Linked DNA regions of Homo sapiens. The protein of the gene in region 2 purifies or fractionates together with the protein of the main gene of each other region. This does not show direct contact. Each region holds a gene or a part of one and is shown on either strand. Other genes may lie near its edges.

Region 1 (3,500 bases), on a different chromosome or scaffold from region 2:
AAGATGGTGGTAGGGGCTGGAGTGATGCCGCAGCAGCCAAGGAACACCAAAGATTGCCAGCAAAGCACTCGAAGTGAGGAGAGGGGCCTGGGACAGATTCTCCCTCACAGCCTTCAGAAGGAACCAGCCCTGCCAGCACCTTGATCTTGAACTTCTAGCCTCCAGAACTGTGAGACAATACACTCCTGTTGATGAAGCCACTCAGTTGGTAGTACTTTACTACAGCAGCTCCAGCAAACTGTACAGGGACCTCATAGCTTCTCTTTAAGGATAGCAAAATCTCTCTCTCTCTCTCTCTTCTCTCTCTCTCCCTGTATTATTTTTTGTTATAAAAATAGTTTTTTGTTACAGAAAAGTCAGAATATATAGACAAGCAAAAAGAATGTAAAAAGTATCCACAATCCTGCTCACCATTCACATCTTGGCGCACGTCTTTCCATATCACTTGTTTTTTTTCTCTCTTTTTTTTTGAGATGGAGTCTTACTCTGTCACCCAGGCTGGAGTGCAGTGGTGTGATCTTGACTCACTGCAACCTCCACTTCCTGGGTTCAAGCAATTCTTGCACCTCAGCCTCCTGAGTAGTTGGGATTACAGGCATGAGCCACCACACCCAGCTAATGTTTGTACTTTTAGTAGAGACAGGGTTGCACCATGTTGGCCAGGCTGGTCTTGAACTCCTAGCCTCAAGTGATCCACCTGCCCCAGCCTCCCAAAGTATTGGGATTACAGGCATGCGCCTCTGCCCCCAGCCTCCATATCACTTAGTATCCTCTCCCCATGTCTACAAACTGTAGCCTGGATCATGTCTTAACACTGTAGGTAACCTGCTTTTTTTTTTTTCAATGATAAATAATAATTGTACACATTCATGGGGTGGGTAACAATGTTGCAATACACATAATGCATAGTGATCAGATCAAGGTAATTAGTACATCAATCATCTCAAACATTTATCATTTCTTTTTGTTGGGTTCATACAATATTCTCCTTCTAGCTGCTTGAAACTATAGAACATATTACTGTTAACTATAGTCTTTCTACAGTGGTATAGAGCAATAGAACTTATTCCTCATATCTAGCTATAATTTTGTATCCTTTAATAAATTTCTCCCTATCCCTCTCTTCCCCCTACCCTTCCCAACCTCTAATATCCTCTGTTCTACTTTTTACTTCTGTAAGATCAACCTTTTTAGCTTCCACACATGAGCAAGAACAAGTGGTGTTTAACTTTCTGTGCCCTGCTCATTTCACTTCACATTCGCCCAGTTTCATCCACATGGCCATAAATGACAGGATTTCATTCTTTTTTTACGGCCGAGTAGTATTCCATTGTATACATATACCATGGTTTTTTGTCCGTTCATCTGTTGTGTGCTCTTTTCATTGAATGTGTGCAGTATCAACAGAAACATTTCGGTAGCATCATTTCTCATGACTGCACAGTATCCTATCGATATCCTGTGTGATACCAACACTGCATCAAATTTCCTATTGGTTCAATCTTTATGCATCATCTCAATACTTTCCTTATGATAAATTCCTAAAATTGCATTTCTGAGCCAAAGATGATGTCCATTTTTAAAGATTTTTTTTTTTTTTTTTTTGAGACAGAGTTTTGCTCTTGTTGCCCAGGCTGGAGTGCAATGGCGTGAACTCGGCCCACCACAACCTCTGCCTCCCGGGTTCAAGCGATTCTCCTGCCTCAGCCTCCCGAGTAGCTGGGATTACAGGCATGCACCACCACGCCAGATTACTTTTGTGTTTTTAGTAGAGATGGGGTTTCTCCATGTTGGTCAGGCTGGTCTCGAACTCCCGACCTCAGGTGACCCGCCTGCCTCAGCCTCCCAAAGTGCTAGGATTACATGCGTGAGCCACTGTGCCCAGCCTTAAAGATGTTAATATGAGCTCTCTATCCACCCTTGGAGAGGTTGTGCCGGCAGCAGCAGTGGGAGGAGGGTGTTACTCTAGGTGCTTCTGGAATTACCTCTCAGAACCATTTTGTGGGTCAGAGAAGCAAACCAGTTTTGTCATCTTTTGGCCCCACCTTATTTTAATGTGTTCATCCTGGTTGTTGACCTTCTTCACTAGACTTGGCTTTGTCTGAAGTTTTGCTGTTTTCAAAAATTAAACTCACCCTCAAAAGACTGAGGTTTGGACAGTTCTCCCCACCCTCCCTGCAAGAAAGGAATTCACAGAGGAATTTGACTCTCAGGGAGCTTTGATTCAGTGACTCTGAGGTCCTTTTAAGTCCTGAAGTGCTAAGGCGGCTATGCTGAGGGCAGTGCATGTGCCCACAGCCTGTGTCCATCAACCGGGGCCCACTGTCCCACCTCACACATGCGCGTGGGGCGCTAAAGGCCAGGCTCACTCACTTGTAGGCTCCAAGGACCAATCCATGCCAGACCTTTTTCCAGATATTCCCATTTTCACGGAGTGGGCTCATGAACTTCAAGTTCTTTGTATATTCAACAGTTTTAACAAAAGACCAGTTACTTTTCTTCTGAGCCATTAAAATGTGAATTATTGGCATAAATTCTGAAATTTATGAATTTCTTCCAAAGTGGACAATTACATTTGAAATTTTATTATTTTTTGTAACATAATGATAAATTATTTAACATTTTCTGTGATGACAACACCTGAAATATACTCTCAGAGCAATATCAAAATGTGCAGTACTCAACTGTTAGCTATATTCACCACACTGTGCAGTAGATGTCCAAAAAAATCAAACTTATCCTTTTTATCTGACTGAGACTTTGTACCCTTTGACTATCATTTTCCCATTCCACCTACCCCCAGCCTCTGTACCCACCACTGTACTCTCTGCTTCTGGGAGTTCAATTGTTTTATATCTCACATATAAATGAGAACATGTGGGATTTGTCTATGTTTGGCATATTTCACTTAGCATAATGTTCTCCAATTCTATCCATGTTGTTGCAAATGACATAATTTCTTCCTTTTTAAAAGCTGAACATATTCCATTGTGTCTATATACCACATTTTCTTTTTCCATTCATCCATTAATGGACATTTAGGTTGATCCCACATCTTTGCTATTGTGAATACTGTTGCAATAAACATGAGGGTGCAGATATCTCTTGACACACAAATTTCAAACTTTTTAGGTAAATACCCAGATGTGACAGTGCTGGATCCCAAAAGCACCATCACAGAGGGCTACTGAGAGCCAGGAAATGGAACTGTGCAATGTGATACTGCTGAATGGGGTTCCTACGAGCTCTAGGGCTTCTCGGTCCTGTTTTATTCCTAGCAAGGGCAAAACAACAACTAAAAACAATTTTTAAAAATCTTTTAAAAAATCGTTTTTAGGCTACTTATAGCCTGTTTTCACTAGGTACACTGGGAATACTTGGTTCTTAGTGTGGCCTGAACACCAGAACCAAATGACCTGCTTCACCCAGTCCAGGACCCATGGCACCTGCTCTCTTCCATCTGAAGAGAACTGCATATATGAGACGAAGGCCAGGTCTCA
Region 2 (3,500 bases):
ATTGCCTGAGAATTTGCTACCTTTGTTAAACTTAATGATTGACAGTTATGTCTCAATTATATTAAATTTATGGTCTCACATCATGAAGTACTGCATGAACATTTATTATCCACTGATTTTTGTAAAAAGTAAAAATGCAATAAAACTTAAGACAATTTAATAGACAAAAATGGAAATGCTGAAAACAAAATTATTTACTAACAAGCACTGTAACTATGCAACAGCTCAAAAACGTTCATTTGTTAGATGACATATAAATTTCCCTGCTACTTGCCTTCTCTTGATATACTGAATATGTTACTAAGCAGCTTTGATGGGTTGCAATTCACAACTGTTGGCTATTGCCATTGGAACTGGTTCTGTGCTTTCCCTAGTTCAGAATACCATCATAACCTCTTGGCAAAGAAAGGACCAAGAAAAGAGCAGAACAGGCTGGGTTATAGTTGTCAAAGACTGTTACTCCTTTCTATATTTTAGAGTGGCAGTTGTAGGAGGCTCACAGATCTTTCAGCATTTTAAATGCCACACACAAAAAGCAAGATATTATATAATTCTGTCACGACTCACCTTGTGATTGTAGGAGTCTGCAACATAAAGTAAATTCCTTTTTTTGTCCCATGTTACTCCAAGGGGGTGTTGAAGCTTTGCATTGATTCCTACTCCATCAACATCACCAAAAGCAAATAAATTCTTTAATTTTTTTTAAAAGAAAAGAAACAGCAGTTATTATAATTTTTACAGTGTTTTGTTAGAATATGAAGGAAAATTCAAACAGTTACAAATGGTATTTAAGTTAAAAGGGAAAATGCTGATTTTCATATAAATAGGGTTGGATACTTCATTCAGATTAGAAAAAAAATGACAGTATTTTGAACCTGTATTAATTGGTGGTGCTTAGTAGTTTTACTCACAATACTACATCTGGTCAGGAATAGGTCAAGTCCACTAGTCTGGTGCTCTTTCCACCCCACTGCCCAATATCTAATTTACATTTTTTTCTTTTCTCCAATAATCAATGCTTCATCCTTTCTTTCTCCCTGAAACCTTAACATTTATACATAATAAAGTAGAGTCAGTTCACTTTTCTTAGATGGTGTGTTCCTCACGTTGCTTTACATTCACATTTCCTTTGGTCTGACTTTCATTTTGATTCGCAGATAGGCCAAGGATGGTCTCTCTTAAATCTTATTAACTTTCCATAATTCACAAAATTGACAGCTTGCTCAGTGTCCGAGCGCACTGTGCAAGAGTGACTGTCATTACCATGGGGTCTCTTTCTCCTCCTACGAGGTGCTTCACTGCTCCATCTTTCAGTGAAACGGTTCTCACTGTACTGCTCTCACTATCTGCTACAAACAAGCAGCTCCAGGGATCTTCAGAGGCCAAGGAAAGGCCTGAAGGTTGGGCAAAACCTGCCTTGTGAGGATAGGCATTGTTTCGATTCTCTTCATTTCCACTTCCAGCAAACCTAAGGCAGGTTCCTTTTGTTAACTCACTGAAAAAGACAAGTTCATAGGTGGAGTCAACATGTGGTATATTGTGTGCAATTTAGTTCTTAAATAAATGAATGTGAATAATCAAATCAAAAGTGATAAGCCTCCTAAAAAAACAAACTAGTGATCTTGGTCTAGTTAAATTGTTCAAGTCAGCTTTCATTATCATTTTTCCAACCATTAACTTATTTACCCACTGTGTAGGGAACTTCTTACTTTACTTTGATACACACAAAACTGAAATCACTTTCAAATGTTAAACGACAAATCCCTGATAGAATTATAAGATAAAAATAATGATCAGATTATTGATGAGATAGGTTGTTTTTACTACCTTAAATTCTTAACTTCTTAGTTTCATGCAATATGAGGTTCGGAAAGGGAACTAAAAAGATCATCTAGCTCTTGATAGTTTAAAGCTTCAATTTTCATTAAAAATGTTTTGTGTTCTTATATATAAACAGAGACCAGCAAAAGGAATTAAAGAATAGTTTTTGAAAGTTGGCCAGGTCAGACATTACTATTATATGAAAAATAATATAATTGTACATAATTATCTTAAAATTACATGGGATAATTATGTACAATTATATCGATTGTACAAATCAATTTCTTATATACATTAGGGAAATTTCTATTTAAGGAACTATTGCAATGATTCCTTTTGTAATGCAGAGAAAGCTTTAGATCCTGGTTTCTAAGTTTATTCCAGAGAGACTGTAAAAAAGACATGGTAGTGTGTTGTGTTGAGGGAAGGGAAGCAGCTGACTCGGGACACAAAATGAGAGTCTGTGTAAATCATTTCTGAATATGGTACAACATGCAAAAGTCTGAACTCACCATCACTTACTGGCTAATATGTTCCCATAATAAGTTAGGTAGGGAGCAGGGGACAGAGGCAAAGGGATTTAGCACGCATAAAATATGGCCACTTATTCAAGAAACATATAAACATAGCAAGTACAATATATGTAATAACTAATATGCTGAACAAATTAATTGAAAGGAGTCTACAAGGAGTCTTAATACTTTAAAAAGGAGTTTCCTTAATTAAATAAAGAAAAGAGTAGGGAGAAACAATAACTTTTAAAATGCTAAGGGTCATTACTACCTGAAGATCGGTAATAAAGATAATACATCCTTAAAATTAAAACACAGGTCAGTGTGGTCCTAGTGCCAATTTCCTATTAAGAAGGAGAGTGACAACTCTACTTATGAGGAAATTCAGGCAGCTCTGAATCATCTATGCCTAAAACAGCCATCACCCAGAACAGCATATTCTGGCAACTTCTGTTACTTCTCTGCTGTTTATAATTATGCCTCATGTAAAATCTTATTGGTAATCTCACTGTTCAGGCTACTATCATCTCTTGCCTGGATAACAGCAATAGGCTCCTCAGTGGTATCTCTTATCTCTGTCTCTAGTCTTGTTCCACTCTGAGTGCTGCCAATGTTCTTTCAAAAACACAAATCTAATCATGTCACTTCCCAGCTTAAACCTTTCTAAAAAGGCTTGTAGAATATTCAGATCCCTAAAAGTACTCACAAGGCACAGTGTGATCTGGCTTCTACTGACATCACTAGTGCCAATTCTTGCCTGGAAAACTTTCCACTCTCCCTAACTCCTATACTCTTATCAGGTCACTGTTTAGTTGCCTCTTCCAAGAAGCCCTCCTTGACAACTCAAATCTTACTGATGTTGCGTCTTCCTCTTACTTATATAAGGAACAATTTCAATTTTTTTTTTTTTAAACGGAGTCTCACTCTGTCGTCCTGGCTGGAGTGCAGTGGCACAATCTCAGCTCACTGCAACCTTCCGCCTCCTGGGTTCAAGCGATTCTCCTGCCACAGCCTCCTGAGTAGCTGGGATTACAGGCAAGCGCCACCACGCCCAGCTAACTTTTTCTATTTTTAGTAGAGACGGGGTTTCACCATATTGTCATTCTGGTCTCGAACTACTGACCTTGTGATCTGCCTGCCTCGGCCCCCCAAAGTGCTGGGATTACA
Region 3 (3,500 bases), on a different chromosome or scaffold from region 2:
TCTGGGAGGCTGAGGTGGGTGGATCAACTGAGGTCAGGAGTTCGAGACCAACCTGGCCAACATGGTGAAACCCTGTATCTACTACAAATACAAAAATTAGCTGGGCATGGTGGCAGGCACCCGTAATCCCAGCTACTTGGGAAGCTGAGGCAGGAGAACCACTTGAACCCAGGAGGCTGAGGTTGCAGTGAATCAAGATCGTGCCATTGTACTCTAGACTCGGTGACAGAGTGAGACTCCATCTCAGGAAAAAAACAACAACAACAACAAAAAAAAGGAAACACAAACAGGGCTGCCCCGCATTGTTTGCAATTGCAAGACCTGGAACTCACTTATATGTTTATCAATAGACGAGGTTAACTGGAATATATTAATATAATGGGATACTATACAGCAGTAAGAATGAGCGAGCTACACTTCACAAATCCGGTATCAATATTCTCTCCCAAATATAGTGTGAAAAAAGCACAGTGCAGAAGGATCTGTTTAACAAAGAAGACCATATTGATTTATGTACAAGTCTTTTTGTATATACTACAAGGAAAACAGGCCAGGTGCGGTGGCTCAAGCCTGTAATCCCAGCACTTTGGGAGGCCGAGGAGGGCAGATCACCTGAGGTCATGAGTTTGAGACCAGCTTGACCAACACGGATAAACCCCATCTCTACTAAAAATACAAAATTAGCCGGGCATGTGGCACATGCCTGTAATCCCAGCTACTCGGGAGGCTGAGACAGGAGAATCGTTTGAACCCGGGAGGCGGAGGTTGAAGTGAGCCGAGATGGCGCCATTGCACTCCAGCCTGGACAACAAGAGCAAAACTCCGTCTCAAAAAAAAAAAAAAGGAAAACAATAGAATGATAACAAACAAAAAATTCAGGGTATAGTTCTTTCTCAGGGGAAGGGAAGATGAGGATGGAGGGACCCACTGTAGTTCCAAAAATCACTGTAATGTACTAGTTCTTAATCCTGGGAGCAGCTACACACAGGTTCATTATTTATGACAAGAGTACATCATTTATCTTCTTCTTTATGCATATACTTTTTTTTTTTTAAATATTCAGGTGGCTCACGCCTATAATCCCAGCACTTTGGGAGACAGAGACAGGTGGATCACCTGAGGTCAGGAGTCTGAGACCAGCTTGGCCAACAAGGTGAAACCCCGTCTCTACTAAAAATACAATAATTAGTTGGGCATGGTGGTGGGTGCCTGTAATCCCAGCTACTTGGGAGACTGAGGCAGGAGAATCGCTTGAACCTGGGAGGCAGAGGTTGCAGTGAGCTGAGATCTCACCATTGCACTCCAGCCTGGGAGACAAGAGTGAAACTCAGCCTCAAAAAAAAAAAAAAAAAAAAATTTAGAAGAGGCCAGGGGCGGTGGCTCACCTGAGGCACCTGAGGTCAGGAGTTCAAGACCGGCCTGGCCAACATGGCAAAACCCCGCCTCTACTAAAAACACAAAAATTAGCTGGGCATGGTGGTGCGGGCCACTAGTCCCAGCTACTTTACATGGGAGGCTAAGGCAGGAGAATTGCTTGAACCTGGGAGGCAGAGGCTGCAGTGAGCCGAGATCGCACCACTGCACTCCAGCCTAGGCAACAGACTCCACCTCAAAAAAAAAAAAAAAAAAAAAAAATACTCAGGAGAGAATCCCAGGATGTCAGGGTGGAAATGAACATCAGAAGCAGTTCTTGCTCTTCCTGTGCCCTGAACTACCCGAGCTGGCTTCTGCCCGGAAAGAACCTCTGGCTCCAGACCTCAGGTTGTTTCTTCAGATCTCTGCCCCATGTCACCTCTTCCAAGAAGCCCTCCCTGACCACACTGTCTAAAATAGCTCTTCTTCCCCTCACTCATGCTTGCCACCTGACATTAGGTGGTTATTGCCTGTCTACCCTACTGCAATACAAGCTCCTTGAGGACAGAGCTTTGGGCCTTTCACTGTTGTATCCACAGGCTTGAATAGTACCAGGCACAAACTGAGTGCACAAATGAATACATGATGTATCCTAGTAACCTTGGGGCTGTAACCTCTTTGAGCCTCAGTTTCCTCACTATAAAACGGAGGTAAAAGAAGAATCTGACTAAATGATGTAGTGTGTATGTACAGAACGTGGCACCATGCATAGAAATTAGCAATTGCTCAGTAAATATTAGACTATGCTTCATTCGGAGGATGGGGCCACTAAGGTTCACAGAAAGTGACTTGCCTAAAGTCACACGGCCTGCCAGCAGCAGAGCTAGGATAAGAGCAAAATGCTAAGAAAAACTGGTGAATGGATAAACAAAATGCACTATGTCCACACAACGGAATATTCAGCCGTAAAAAGAAATGAAGGGCTGGGCGTGGTGGCTCATGCCTGTTAATTCCAGCACTTTGAGAGGCCAAGGCAGGAAGAGGACTTGAGCCCAGAATTTGAGACCAGGCTCAGCAACATACCCTGTCTCTACAAATAATTTTTAAAATTAGCTGTGTATGGTGGTGAGTGCCTCCCAGCTACTTAGGAGGCTGAGCTGGGAAGACTGCTTGATCCCGGGAGGTTGAGGCTGCAGTGTGCCATGACTGTGCCATTGCACTCCAGCTTCGGGACACAGTGGAGACCCTGCCCCCCACCCCCCAAAAAAAAGGAACAAAGTACTGATTCATGTTACAACATGGATGACCCTCTAAAAATTATGCTAAGAGGCCAGACCCAAAAGAACTCATTCTGTATAATTGCATTTATATGAAATGTCTAGAAGAGTTAAATTTAGAGACAGAAAATTAGATTAGTGGTTGCCCAGGACTGGGGGTGGAAATGGGGAGTGACAGCAAATGTCCAGAAGAGATCTTTTAGGAGATGTGGTAAATTTTTGTAGTAAATCTCTGCAAATTCATTAAAATCACTTACAATGTTATGATACGCCAATTATACCTTAATCAAGCTGCTAGAAATTTGTTTTTATTTTTATTTATTTATTTATTTGAGACAAGTTCTCACTCTGTCACCCAGGCTGGAGTGCAGTGGTACAATCTTGGCTCACTGCAACCTCCGCCTCCCGGGTTCAAGCGATTCTCATGCCTCAGCCTCCCGAGTAGCTGGGGTTACAGGTGCCTGCTACCATGCCCGACTCATTTTTTTTGTATTTTTTAGTAGAGACAGGGTTTCACCATGTTGGCTGGGCTGTCTCGAACTCCTGACCTCAAATGATCCACCCACCTTGGCCTCCCAAAGTGCTGGGATTACAGGTGTGAGCTATCACACCTGGCCTAAAAATTTGTTTTTAAAAGAAAAAGGGCCTGGAGCAGTGGCTCACGCCTGTAATCCCAACACTTTGGGAGGCCAAGGCTGGCGGGAGGATCACCTGAGGTCAGGAATTCAAGACCAGCCTGGCCAACATGGTGAAACCCCATCCCTACTGAAAATGCAAAAATTAGCTGGGCAGTGGTGGCATGCACCTGTAATCCCAGCTACTTGGGAGACTGAGGCAGAAAATCGCTTGAACCTAGGATGTGGAGGTTAC
Region 4 (3,500 bases), on a different chromosome or scaffold from region 2:
CATTAAATGACCTGGTCATGGTCACACAGTAAATGAGAGTGTCAAAATATCACCTAACGTTCTAATCCTAACCTGCTAGAAAGTAAACTCTAGAAGGGCAGGCATTGCCTCTCTTGGGTTCACTGCCAGCACCTAGCACAGCACCATGCACACCACTGGGGTTAATGCTAGTATCAGTACACATGCTCAGAATAAATATTATGAGAGTTAACTGCACTTCACAAAGAAGCCACGTAAGTAATAAATGGACAGTAGCTCCATCTCATATCACGAACAAGGCTAACTTGTAATGAAGAACTGCAGCAGCCCCCATTTGTAAACTAGAAGTGTTTTCCTTTTAGAATAACGAAATATTTGAAGAAAAACAGCCACCCATTTCCAACTGTTACATGGTAGAATGAATCAATCTACCATTATTTTTTTGTTAGTAGACTATAACTACAAGATAGTATTCTAGGATATCTGGTCAATAATACAACCAAGTTAATGATTAGTCCACCCTTCTATATAAATGTTGATTTATGATTACTATATTCATCGTCTAGGCTGAGATAATTTTGAAAATAAAGGGGTGCTATTAATATTTATTCACAGGAATAATGGCAACAGTCTTAGGCAAACCAGAACCTACGAGTCAACTTAGTTCAAAGTAAAAATATTCTCCTTTTCTTCTTTCTTATGGCACCTGCAAGAGATCCCCTGCATAGCTTGGCCTACATTTCTTGTTTCTTGCTTAAATTTCCTGACAAAGTGATGTTAAAAATAGAGACAAATTACTAAATAAATACATGCATATGCGTCATCTAAGGATACACAGCAATTTTCAGATATAGCCCATATTAGGATTTCAAAAGCAGTTGATTATAAAATTGACTTGCAACAATAAAAGCTCAACTATAGGATACGTCAATAACACAGACTTGTCTTGTCAATGTTTAAGATGACTACTTCCAATTTAACCTCCTTCCCATTATTGAACTGTAGCAGTCACCATCCCATAGTCCCATTTTTCAATCACTGACTTTTATATGCCTTATCACAAATCCTGAGGGACTCTACAGAAAAAGCCGAAGCTTCTTCCCACCAGCAATCAAAACCATACAAACCTCTGTCAGCTGCTTCAGTTGGTTTTTGTTTGTACTTAATTCTTCTGCTAGGATATTCTTTTTCACTTGTAGTTCACAGATTTCCTTTCTTAATGGATTCACTAGCTCATAGAAGCGAACCTTGAAAAAAATTAAATTAATAAGCAGTCTTAAATCCAAATTACAATTAAAATTTGTAATTTGTAGTGCTCTCACTTATCAGTAATAAAGATAAATATTTACAAAACTACAACAAGACAGTCATTAATGGACCCTAGCCACTAATACTTTCTATCAAGCCTTAATGTTCAATTAACTTCCCTCAAGGGCCAGATGATTTATAACCTCTTACCTTTGACAGTATTTCCTCCCTTCTACTGACACTCCATTACTACTCATCTACTACTGCTCACTCCACACTAGGTGCTTGTAAACTTCTGGAACATATCACAAATGTTCAGGAGTCTTGCTCTTGCTGTTTCTTCTGCTAGAGAAGTTCTTCCCCCATATAAATGCATGGCTCATGCCTTGTCTCCCTATAGGTCTCTGACCAAATATTACCTTGTTAGTAAAGCCCTCCCTGATTTCTTTACCTAATTTTAAGTAGCACTCCCTATTTTTCACCCCTGCTCTTTTCTCTGTAGCACCTTTGACAAACAGATATTCTACATATTTAATTTTTAAGTTATTGCCTGTGTTGCTCCACTTTCACAACCTGAGGGCAGGGATTTTTGTCTGGTTTATACACCGCTGTATTTCCAATGCCTAAATATATGATAAGCACTCAATAAATACTTGATGAAGAGGTAAAGTGTATTCTTTATTTTCATCCCAGGCTCTTGGCAAAGCTTTATTTACTGCTGTCCCTACAGTGGAAGTCTAATCAGAATGAATCAAGAGGTATCTTTCACATCATTACTTCCATTTAGTTCAGGTCTCTCTTTCCACTCATACTTGTCTCAGAGAAATTTTCCTACCCTAGCTCAGTAAAGTGTTCCATCTGACAAGGTCCCATAAAACTAAGAAATCATCACAGCAAATTAGGAGAGAGTAATTAGGGGCTATCATATAGGCATGCAATCTGAAACTCCTTAACATATGACGGTATTACAAGAATACCATTATTTGGTAAGAGGCAAATCTTAATACTAGCCCTCAACAAAAAGAATCTGCATATAATTAATTAGTTAAGGATAATATTGTCTGTGAAAACAAAAGATGTAAGAAGGAATATTAAGAAAACAAACAGCAAAAATATGTGTAACTGCCACCAGTGTGATACTTTATATCTACTGTAAATGAAGCCTCAAAAACAGAATTTGAGATATTTAATTTGTTTTGGACAGTATACTTTGGACAGAAAAGCTGTATTTGAGCCTTTTAAAAAAAAAAAAAAAACAGCTGAACAAAAAAGTAACTTCATTTTATCAGACATCACTAATCTGCAAATCTTTTCCCAATGAGAACCAAGAATAGCAACCACCACTCCAGCAAAAACAATAGACAACATTTTTATGTGTTTACTATCTTCTAAGCACTATGCTCACAAGCATTTTACATACATAGTTATAGTCTTTACAATTATCCCCAATAGAAACGCACCGTTACTATTAACCCTTTTTAGGGATTAAAAAATTCAAGCCTCTCAGGGTAAAATGACATCTACATATTAAAAAGCAGCAGTTCTCAACATATGGTTTTGGGACTCCTGGACTCTGCCCCACTCGCCACTCTGAGATCCTTTCAGGGAATTCACAAGATCAAAACGACTTTCCTAGTAATTATTAAGATTTTTTTTCCCCGTTTCATTCTCATTCTCTCATGACTGTTCAGTGGAGTTTGCCAGTGGCTACATGACATATGACATTATCACTCTTAAGGCCAATGGAATTGTGTGCTTATTCTTGTGTTTAAAAAAGTTGTTAGTTTAAAATTCTAGTATGGTAAATATTAATAGATACAGCCCATATAAACAAACACTCATTGGGGTCCTCAATAACTTTTAGAATGTAAATGAATGCTGACACCAAAATATTTGAGACCACTGCCATAGATTAATCCTAGGTGTTCTAGATTTGTGTAACCAGCACTGCAATCAAGATCTTGCGCCAATCTCTCACCACAAAGTTCTTTCTCATCCTATCCCTTTATAACCACGCTGACTCCTCTCTCCCACTATCCCCAACCAACCCCTGGCAACAACTACTCTGTTGTTTATAATTTTTCATTTTGAGAATGTAAGAAACCACCAGTTTACGATAATTCATTTCTATGGACTATGCAGTCATTAACTTCAGAAACCTATTTATTGCTTGACTTTGGAGATCAATGGTCATGATCCTTTAAAATTTGGATCTCAACACCATTCACCATCCATAGCCATAAAATAATGTATCAATTGGGTACTTCAAAAGT
Region 5 (3,500 bases), on a different chromosome or scaffold from region 2:
TCTTCTGATTTTTGGTTCTTATGACAGTGCTGTTTTGCGTGGGCAGTTGTTCAGTTTGGTGTTACTGTGGGGGATGAGGAGGGTGGTCAATGGAGGCTTCTATTCTGCCTCTTGCTCTGCCTCCTGAGCTCCAGGCCTGTGTTTGGACTTTACCTTACTCTCAGAGCAGGTTTTGTAAAAAAGTAAAACCTGTTGGGGTTTTGCTGACTCAGAGCATGTGTGAGGAAGGAGGAGGGATAGAGGAAAGATTCTGAGCAGGAGGCGGAGCGCGGTGGCTCACGCCTATAATCCCAGCACTTTGGGAGGCCAAGGCAGGTGGATCACCTGAGGTCAGGAGTTCATAGACCAGCCTGGCCAACATGGTGAAACCCTGTCTCTACAAAAATTAGCCAAGTGTGGTGGCACCTGCCTGTGGTCCCAGCTACTCCGGAGGCTGGGGTGGGAGAATCACTTGAGCCCAGGAGTTTGAGGCTGAAGTGAGCCACGGTTGTGCCACTGCACTCCAACCTGGGTGACAGAGTGAGACCCTGTATCAAAAAAAAAAAAAAAAAAAAAATTCTGAGCCAGGAAACATCCCCTTTGCTAATGATGCCTGTTCCTTTCCAGTGTATTTCCGCATTGTCACCATGGATAGCAACTTCGTTCCAGTGAATGACAAGGTGAGTTGGGAGGAGGAGAAGGAGTGGCGCAGGGAGAACAGGGAAAAGGATGAGAGATTCTCTAGGGTGGAAGTCCTCTCAGCCTGGGCGTGGCAAGGCGAGGCCCTCTGGGTTGGAGACTGCTGTGTGCGTGGGACTGGAAGTGCTGGGCGAGCTTCAGGGAGCTAGCCTAAATCAGCCTAGGAACAAGCAGAGGTAACCAGTTCTCAGCTTCAGTATCTACACATTCATCAGGTTCTTGAGAGATGGTTATGCTCCTTGTCATTTTATTTTATTTATTTGTTTATTTAGAGACAGAGTCTCGCTCTGTGGCCCAGGCTGGAGTGCAATGGCGTGACCTCAGCTCACTACAACCTCTGCCTCCTGGGTTTAAGCAATTCTCCTGCCTCGGCCTCCCAAATAGTTGGAATTACAGGCGCGCACCATCACGCCTGGCTAATTTTTGTATTTTTAGTAAAAACAGGGTTACATCATGTTGGCCAAGCTGGTCTCAAACTCCTGACCTCAAGTGTTCCACCCACCTCGGCCTCCCAAAGTGCTGGGATTACAGACAAGAGCCACCATGCTCAGCCCCCTTTCATTTTAAGAGTTTTCGCAAACTTCAAGACCTTTTCTTCAGGACTGACAAAAGCATTTTTTTTTTTAAGGCAGAAAGGAGAATGTCCGCTTCCACTCTGTTTCTATGAGGCAAAATAATTTACAAAGTAGGTAATTCTCTTAGGGCAACATTAAATAAATACATGCCAAAGCTTAAAATGTAGCAACATTTTGCGAATATTTGATTTTTCCTTGGACTCCCCATCCCTAGAATCATAAGCCTTACCACAGGTTTGATTTCAAGTTGGAGCATGTGTCATTTCTACATGCTTCTGAGACACTTACCTCCCGGACACCCCTGCTTTCTTCCTCTTCCGTCTGTCCCAGCCTGTGTATTCAAATGAAACTTTTAGAGATAAACATAGAGAAAGCATGATTTCCATTTTCCATCTCCGTGTTCTCAGAGCTGCTGTTTCCTTTCCCTATGTGCAGGGGAGTTATTAGCTTGTTATGATTGGTAATGCCCTACCCGCTACTCTCTTTCCCAATATAGATTTCCTTTTACTTCCTCCTTCCCATCACCTATGGCTTTTCTTTGGTAGGTATAACGTTGAGTACTTCTTACTTTTTTTTTTTTTTTTTAACATTTTAAGACAAGGTCTCATTCTGTCACCTAGGCTGGAGTGCAGTGGCAGTCATGGCTCACTGCAGCTTTGACCCTGCCCCGGGCTCAAGTAATCTTCCCATCTCAGTCTCCCCAGTAGCTGGGACCACAGGTGTGCACTACCACACCTGGCTAATTATTTTATTTTTTTGTAGAGTTGTGGGGGGCGGGGGTCTCACCTTGTTGCGCAGGCCGGTCTTGAGCTCCTGGCCTCTCTCGCTTTGGTCTCCCAAAGTGTTGGGATTATAGGCCTGAGCCACTGCACCCGGCCTGAGTGCTTACTTCTTAACAGACTGTTTTCTCTAGAGCTGCAACAAGGAAGTGCTGGGTTCAAAGCGTGGCCCGCAGCAGCACTATTTTAGACTCACTTACCCTCAGGGTTGATCTCATTAACTACCCCTGTTACGATTCAAATGAAGCGGGATTACTTCCAGGTGTTCTGTTTTCTGCAGTTAGGCTCTTTCTCTTGTGAAATTACTCCTTCCTCCCCACTCTATTTCTCCAGCCAAACTCTCCCTCCAAATTCAGTTGAAACACTGAGATTAACAAAAGGAATTTTACCAAGAAAGCTAGGATAAAAATTGTGTTTATGTAACCACCCAATGGGTTCACCTTGCCTGCTGCTTAGACAGGGTTGATTTATCGAGACAGGGGAATTGCAATGAAGAAAGAGTAACTCACCCAGAGCCGGCTGTGTGGGAGACTGGAGTTTTACTGTTACTCAAATCAGTCTCCCTGAGCATTTGGAAATCGAGTTTTTTTTTGTTTTTGTTTTTGTTTTTTTTTGAGACGGAGTTTCATTCTTGTTGCCCAGGCTGGAGTGCAATGGCGCGATCTCGGCTCGCCGCAACCTCTGCCTCCCAGGTTCAAGTGATTCTCCTGCCTCAGCCTCCCAAGTAGCTGGGATTACAGGCATGCGCCAACACGCCCGGCTAATTTTGGTACTTTTAGTAGAGACGGGGTTTCTTCATGTTGGTCAGGCTGTTCTTGAACTCCCGACCTCAAGTGATCCGCCCGCCTCGGCCTCCCAAAGTGCTGGGATTACAGGCGTGAGCCACCGCGCCTGGCCAGGAAATCGAGTTTTTAAAGATAATTTGGCAGGTAGGGGCTTGGGAAGTGGGGAGTGCTGATTGGTCAGGTTGGAGATGGAGTCATAGATGGTCAAAGTGAGGTTTTCTTGCTGTTTTCCTCCTCCTGGGTGGGATGGCAGAACTGGTTGAGCCAGATTACTGGTCTGGGTGGTGTCAGCTGATCCACTGAATGCAGGGTCTGCAGAACATCTCAGGCGCTGATCTTGGGTTTTACAACAGTGATGTTCTCCCCAGGAGCAATTTGAAGAGGTTCAGACTCTTGGAGTCAGAGGCTGCATGACCCCTAAAGTGTAATTTCTAATCTTGTAGCTAATTTGTTAGTCCTGCAAAGGCAGACTGGTCCCCGGGCAAGAAGGGGGTCTTTTTGGGAAAGGGCTGTTATCAATTTTGTTTCAGAGTCAAACCATGAACTGAATTCCTTCCCAAAGTTAGTCTGGCTTACACCCAGGAATCCACAAGGACAGCTTACAAGTTAGAAGCAAGATGGAGTCGGTTAGGTCTGACATCTTTCACTTTCATAGTTTCCTCAGTTATAATTTTGCAAAGGCG
Region 6 (3,500 bases), on a different chromosome or scaffold from region 2:
TTCATCATGATAAAGAGTAAAATTATCAGATTGGCAAAATAAGAACTTTATAACATCCTGCATTACAGAGAGTAAGAAGAAAAAAAATACATTGCTAGTAGGACTGTTAATTCATGGACCTTTTGGCTGGGCGCAGTGACTCATGCCTGTAGTCCCAGCACTTTGGAGGCGGGTGGATCACCTGAGATCAGGAGTTTGAGACCAGCCTGGTCAACATGGTGAAACCTCATCTTTACTAAAAATACAAAAATTAGCCAGGCGTGGTGGCGAGCACCTGTAATCCCAGCTACTCAGGAGGCTGAGATAGGAGAATCACTTGAACTTGGGAGGTGGAGGTTGCAGTGAGCCAAGATCGTGCCACTGCACTCCAGCCTGGGCAATAAGACTGAAACTCTGTGTCAATAAATAAATAAATAAATAAATAAATAAATAAAACTGATGGGAGTTCAATGAAGGACAACTTGGAGATCCATGTCTGTATCTGCGTACATGCATGATTAAAATTCACAGACCCTTTGACGTAGCAGTTCTATAGGAATTTATCTTATAGATATGCTTGTTCAAATGTACATATTTAGTTATGCATACATTTATTCATTGCAGAAGTGTTTCTAATAGAAAAAGGTTAGAATAACTTAAATATCTATCATTGCTGGGGGTGCATCCTGAAATAAATTATGGCTTATCCATATAATTGAACATTATACAGTCTTAAAGTGTCTTTATCTATAGATTAATCCCAGAGACCAATTGTTAATGTAAAAAAGCAAGGTGTCAAATGTTATGTATGGAATATTATTTTTTGAAAAAGAAAAAATGAATATATATTTTATATACATAAGATATGTACATATATAGTACACATTTACATATATGTGTATATACATAAAACACCTTAAAGGAAGAATACAAAAATTATACTAGTTACTTCCAAGGATGGGACTGGGTGGCTGGGGGACAAGGATAGAGAGCATTCTTTTCAGTGTCTATAATTTTAAATTTTTACATGAACATATTATTTATTTTTAAATAAATAAAAGTTTAACAACAAAATAACAGGCTTGACTCAAAACGTTAAGAGGCAAATCTAATGCCCTTGTTTTGCAGTTCATTCATAAGCTAAGAGGGGTTAGGTAATTTGTCAAATGTAGCAGAACTAGTATGTAAGCAACACAGGACAAGAGCTGGGATTGATTGGGCTCTCTCATAGAGGTTGCTTGAGAGTAAAGGAAAATATACTTAAGCTGGGTGTGGTGGCTCATGCCTATAGTCCCAGGACTTTGAGAGGCTGAGGTGGGTGGATCACTTGAGGTCAGGAGTTCAAGACCAGCCTGACCAACATGGTGAAACCCCATCTCTACTAAAAGTACAAAAAAAATTAGCCAAGTGTGGTGGCACATGCCTGTAATTCCAGCTACTCAGGAGGCTGAGGCAGGAGAATCGCTTGAACCCGGGAGGCGGAGGTTGCAGTGAGTCGAGATCGTGCCATTGCACTCCAGCCTGGGCAACAAGAGCGAAACTCCTTCTAAAAAAAAAAGAAAAGGAAGGGAAGGGAAGGGATTGGATTTAAATACTCGTCACACAAATAAGTCAAAAGTTCAAAACTCCATTTTTGTGTGGGTGCAGTGAAAACAGTAATTAACTTGCTGGAGGAAGCATGACTTGGTATAACACTGAAGAACAAGCTGGCGGCTCATATAGGAACAAAGAACATACTCTCAGGCAGGTGAATAGGTACAGGGAGGACTTGCCTTATCAGATGTCAAACTTAAATATAAAGCTATTTACATTGAAAGCAATGTGATGGAATAGGGAGGTCAATGGAACAAATTATTAAACCCATGAATAGGCATATTTAGAAATTTCGTATATGATAAAGGCAACATCTCTGATTTCTGGGCATAGAGAGAAGGGAGGTCGGGGAGTGGTGTGCAGGGAGAAGAATGGATAATCCAGTAAGTAAAGTTGTGACAACAAGCTACTCATTGATTAAAAAAATAAAGTAGTCCTAGCTTCTCTGGAGGGTGAGGCAGGAATATTGCTTGAGCTCAGGAGAGCAAAAACTGCCTGGAGAGCACAGTGAGACCCCATCTCTGAAAAAAGAAAGTCAGATACATACACCATTCACTAAAAAACAAATTGTGTACCTGTAATTCCAGCACCTTGGGAGGCCAAGCAGGGAGGATCACTTGACTCCAGGAGTTTGAGACCAGTCTCGGCAATATAGTGAAACCCAGTCTCTACAAAAAATACAAAAATTGGCTGGCTGCAGTCACTCACGCCAGTAATCTTAGCTCTTTGGGAGGCCGAGGCAGGAGGATCACCTGAGGTCAGGAGTTCAAGACCAGCCTTGCCAACATGGTGAAACCCCATCCCTACTAAAAATACAAAAATCAGCTGGGCGCAGTGGCGGGTGCCTATAATCCCAGCTATTCAAGAGGCTGAGGCAGTAGAATCACTTGAACCCGGGAGGCAGATGTTGCAGTGAGCCGAGATCGCACCACTGCACTCCAGCCTGGGCGACAGAGTGAGACTCCGTCTCAAAAAAAAAAACAAAAAACAAAAAACAAAAATTAGCAGGGCATGGTGACATGTATGTGTAGTCCCAGTTACTCAGGGGGCTGAGGTGGGAGGATCAATTGAACCTGGGAGGTCAAGGCTGCAGTGAGCCATGATAGCACCACTGCACTCCAGCCTGAGCACTAGAGGAAGACCCTGTCAAAAAATAAAAAATTACCCACGCGTGGTGACACAGGCCTGTACTTCCAGCTACTCTGGAGGCTGAAGTGGGAGGATTGCTTGAGCCCAGGAGTTCGAGGCTGCAGTGAGCTATAATCACACCACTGCTCTTCAGCCAGATAGACAGAATAGGGCTCTGTCTCAAAAAAAAGAAAAATATCCCAGCACTCCGGGAGGCCGAGGCGGCGGATCACGAGGTCAGGAGATCAAGACCATCCTGGCTAACATGGTGAAACCCGTCTCTACTAAAAATACAAAAAAATTAGCCGGGCGTGGTGGCAGGCGCCTGTAGTCCCAGCTACTCAGGAGGCTGAGGCAGGAGAATGGCATTAACCCGGGAGGCGGAGCTTGCAGTGAGCCGAGATCGTGCCACTGTGCTCCAGCCTGGGCAACAGAGTGAGACTCCGTCTCAAAAGAAAAAAAAAAAGAAAAAAAATTATTTCTTTAGCAATTCTGCTAGGCAGGCATCACAATAGGACTGCTTCTGTGGTTCAAAAATTCTCTTATCCTTCTGATTTAGTAGGTTTGGATGAGGCCCTGAAATTTTAAGTTTACCAGGCAATTGCAAAGATGAACCAAGCTTTGTGAACTATTACCTTAGATATCAAAACTAATTTGCTGGGTCTTAGGAAAATAGCATTGGAGAATAATGGGAAAGCCATAGCCTTTGAACAGATTCCTTACTCTACAATATATTAGCCACATGTCCTTGGAACGATTTCTTATCTCTTAAGTCAAGGTTTCTCATTGGTAATACAGAA
Region 7 (3,294 bases), on a different chromosome or scaffold from region 2:
ACAGTAGGACCAGGGCCCAGCCTAGAACTGAGTCCACGTCAGTTCCAGAGGTAGAACGATGGCCTCCAACCCCCACAGTACACATTGAAATCAACCTTCTGCTTGGCCCGGACTAGCCCAGAACTTTTCCTTCTCCCAGCACCCTGAACCAGAAGGTGTGTGTCACGTCCTAAGGTCAACACCTTGGACAGACAGAGCTAGGTTCTATTCCTGGCCTGATACTTAACATCTGTGAGAGCAAGTCGGTCTCTACACCTGACTTTCCCCATTCGCAGGATGGATGGATCACTCATCTCTCAAGGCTGTTACAAAGATCAGTGCTACTCAGAGTCATTCGTGCAGTAGGTGACTTAATAAATGGTGGCTGCCTTCTCTGTCATTGTTGACCAAGGTACCTAGTCCCTTGCCTGCATACAGCATGTGAGGCATGATGCCAAGAGTGTCCTGTCCCCAAGCCACATGTTAGCAATGATGAAGAAAAGTGGTAAGGACAGGGTCAGGTGCTGAGGCGGGAGCTTTGCCTCTTTCACTTCCAACCCTGCCCTCATTTCAAAGGCCTGACCAATTTCTCACCAAACTCATAGCCATATTTCTCCCAACTGGGATTAGATGGGGATCAAGTGAGAATCTTTCAACCCCACAACCAGCTGCACAGAACAAGGTATGCCTTGAGGTCCTTATGAGTAAAATGTTTGGTCCAGCAAGACATTGCTCCAGGGAGATTAGTTGTTGGCTGGCCCTGGAGGCAGATGCCCCAGGCCTCTTCCTGCGTCTTCCTCAATTGGTAGAACCAGCCTTTCAAAAGATGAAGGGATGGTATGTAGACCCCATCACAGCTTCTCCAGCAGCAAAAGGCTGGAAGAGCAAGAGCTACTCTTACCATTTAGCTCATAAGGAGACTGAGGATTGGACAGGGTAAGGGACAAAGCAAAGTTCACCTGTAAAACTGCCAAGAAAAGCCAGGACTAAAACATCTGTCCTGACCCCAGGGAAGGGTGGACTGCATGGGGTGTTAGGGTGAGCACTGGATTTCATGTCAGAGGACTTCATCTTCATGAGTATGCAGACCATACAACCATAGTGAGATGCCATGCTTAGGGATGTATCTTTTTTTTTTGAGACAGGGTCTCACTCTGTCACCAGGCTGGAGTGCAGTGGCACAATCTCGTCTCACTGCAACCTCCACCTCCTGGGTTCAAGCAATTCTCCTGCCTCAGCTTCCCAAGTACCTGGGACTACAGGCATGCGCCACCATGCCCAGCTCATTTTTTTGTATTTTTAGTAGAGATGGGGTTTCACCATGTTGGCCAGGCTGGTCTCCAACTTCTGACCTCAAATGATCTGCCCACCTCGGCCTCCCAAAGTGCTGGGATTACAGGTGTGAGCCACCGCGCCTGGCCAGGGATGTATCATCTTATTACAAGGCCACAACGTGCAGCCTGCAGACTGCACTCAGCTTATACACATGTCCAAGTTAACCCACCCAGTTATTTTTTAAATTATAATGAGGCCAGGTGCAGTGGCCGAGGCGGGTGGATCACTTGAAATCAGGAGTTCGAGACCAGTCTGGCCAATATGGCAAAACCCCGTCTCTACTAAAAATACAAAAAAATTAGCCAAGTGTGGTGGCATCTGCCTGTAATCCTAGCTACTCAAGAGGCTGAGGTGGGAGGATTGCTTGAACCCGGCAGGTGGAGGTTGCAGTAAGCCGAGATCACGTCACTGCACTCTAGCCTGGGCAACAGAGTGAGACTCTATCTCAAAAAAATCAAAATCAAAATAAAATTTTAATGAGTTGCCTGTATTTGAAAATCATTTTGTATAGAGATCTTGGTATCTCTGGCTCTCCTGAAAGGTTAGAAGCCCTGGTCAGACGGACCTGGGTTCCTAGGTGGCAACCAGCCCTTTACCCCTTCAGCTCTTCCAGTCCTTGTTCAGCTGGCATCACTCATTTACCTGCCTAGCCCCTGTGGGTGTGTGGGTTCATGATCTCAGGAAATCCTCACAATCCTGAAGGGGGTTGCTATTACCTTCATTTCACAGATGAGAAAATGAAGACAGAGAAAGAATTTGCCTGGATTACACAGCCTGTAAGTGGTGGGGCTGAGATTCAAACTGGGGTGTGTCCCGCTCCAAGGCCCAGGCTCTCCTCACCACCTGGTCCTGCCGCTCTGCTGTGCTCCAGGGAGCCACTCCCTACTGTGGGTCTCAGTTTCTTCTTCTGTCAATGGGGAGAATGACTTCTGCACTGTAGAGGACCCCATGAGGGCCTCTAAGAGGGCAGACAGGCAAGCACTTTATAAACTCTGGCAAGCCCTGTGTGGGGATCCCAGGATTAGACACGTGACCCTTGGCTTGAGGTAGAAGAATAAACCCACCTTCTTGGGCAGGAAATGAACCCCAACGGGGTACTTGTCTGGATGGGTCCACAGCTCGATCTGCGCCATCACCTGGTTGGTGAAGGAGTTACTCATCACGAAGCTGGGGTGGCCCATGGCACAACCCAGGTTGACCAGCCGACCCTCGGCCAGCAGGATGATGCGGCGCCCATTCTTCAACCGATACCGGTCCACCTACACGCAGGCAGGGCAACAGTGAAGGCAGGCAGGGCCCCGCTCCCACAGCCCACCCTCTGATCTGGCAGGCCTCTCTGCCTCCAACAGTGCCCATGAGGAGTCCGAACTGCTCCAAAACAACCTCCAGCACATGGCTTAGCACAAAAATAACAGCCAATATTTATTAAGAAATGTTGAGCTGGCCGGGGCACGGTGGCTCACGCCTGTAATCCCAGCACTTTGGAAGGCCGAGGCAGGCGGATCATGAGGTCAGGAGATCGAGATTATCTTGGCCAACACAGTGAAAGCCCGTCTCTACTAAAAAAAAAATACAAAAAATTAGCCGGGCGTGGTAGCAGGCGCCTGTGGTCCCAGCCACTCGGGAGGCTGAGGCAGGAGAATGGCGTGAACCTGGGAGGTGGAGTTTGCAGCGAGCCGAGATCGCACCACTGCACTGCAGCCTGGGCGACGGAGCGAGACTCTGTCTCAAAAAACAAAAAACAAAAAAACAACAAAGAAATGCTGAGCTGCAGACTGCACAGTTCTGCTGTGAGAACTTCACGTGCTCACACTTGCTTGGCGCATATGAGGCACTCAGTAAGCAGCAGCTAATGTTATCGTTATGATCACTGTCATGTGCCCTGTACTAAGTCCTTTACAGGTAACTACCACATTTCATCCCAGAAACAACCCTGTGATTTCAGTACTGCTGTCATCCCCATTTCAGATTCAGAAACTG

Evidence for each region.
Region 1: the proteins of NHLRC2 (region 2) and STAU2 purify together in Homo sapiens (affinity purification with mass spectrometry, with the first as the bait; one large-scale study listed by BioGRID). This does not show direct contact.
Region 3: the proteins of NHLRC2 (region 2) and TKT purify together in Homo sapiens (affinity purification with mass spectrometry, with the first as the bait; one large-scale study listed by BioGRID). This does not show direct contact.
Region 4: the proteins of NHLRC2 (region 2) and PIBF1 purify together in Homo sapiens (affinity purification with mass spectrometry, with the first as the bait; one large-scale study listed by BioGRID). This does not show direct contact.
Region 5: the proteins of NHLRC2 (region 2) and A2ML1 purify together in Homo sapiens (affinity purification with mass spectrometry, with the first as the bait; one large-scale study listed by BioGRID). This does not show direct contact.
Region 6: the proteins of NHLRC2 (region 2) and HSPE1-MOB4 purify together in Homo sapiens (affinity purification with mass spectrometry, with the first as the bait; one large-scale study listed by BioGRID). This does not show direct contact.
Region 7: the proteins of NHLRC2 (region 2) and AHCY purify together in Homo sapiens (affinity purification with mass spectrometry, with the first as the bait; one large-scale study listed by BioGRID). This does not show direct contact.

What each region holds. Positions count from the first base shown.
Region 1 is NC_000008.11:73,425,341-73,428,840, forward strand, and holds part of STAU2 (double-stranded RNA-binding protein Staufen homolog 2), read right to left. Parts: intron 1-3,500. UniProt on the Homo sapiens protein: RNA-binding protein required for the microtubule-dependent transport of neuronal RNA from the cell body to the dendrite.
Region 2 is NC_000010.11:113,899,661-113,903,160, reverse strand, and holds part of NHLRC2 (NHL repeat-containing protein 2), read right to left. Parts: intron 1,496-3,500; coding exon 1,264-1,495; intron 691-1,263; coding exon 568-690; intron 1-567. UniProt on the Homo sapiens protein: Required for normal embryonic development.
Region 3 is NC_000003.12:53,246,023-53,249,522, forward strand, and holds part of TKT (transketolase), read right to left. Parts: intron 1-3,500. UniProt on the Homo sapiens protein: Catalyzes the transfer of a two-carbon ketol group from a ketose donor to an aldose acceptor, via a covalent intermediate with the cofactor thiamine pyrophosphate.
Region 4 is NC_000013.11:72,795,633-72,799,132, reverse strand, and holds part of PIBF1 (progesterone-induced-blocking factor 1), read right to left. Parts: intron 1,227-3,500; coding exon 1,107-1,226; intron 1-1,106.
Region 5 is NC_000012.12:8,829,121-8,832,620, forward strand, and holds part of A2ML1 (alpha-2-macroglobulin-like protein 1 isoform 1 precursor), read left to right. Parts: intron 1-606; coding exon 607-659; intron 660-1,541; exon of another isoform or gene 1,542-2,186; intron 2,187-3,500. UniProt on the Homo sapiens protein: Is able to inhibit all four classes of proteinases by a unique 'trapping' mechanism. This protein has a peptide stretch, called the 'bait region' which contains specific cleavage sites for different proteinases.
Region 6 is NC_000002.12:197,506,879-197,510,378, reverse strand, and holds part of HSPE1-MOB4 (HSPE1-MOB4 protein), read right to left. Parts: intron 1-3,500.
Region 7 is NC_000020.11:34,283,062-34,286,355, forward strand, and holds part of AHCY (adenosylhomocysteinase), read right to left. Parts: intron 2,574-3,294; coding exon 2,379-2,573; intron 1-2,378. UniProt on the Homo sapiens protein: Catalyzes the hydrolysis of S-adenosyl-L-homocysteine to form adenosine and homocysteine. Binds copper ions.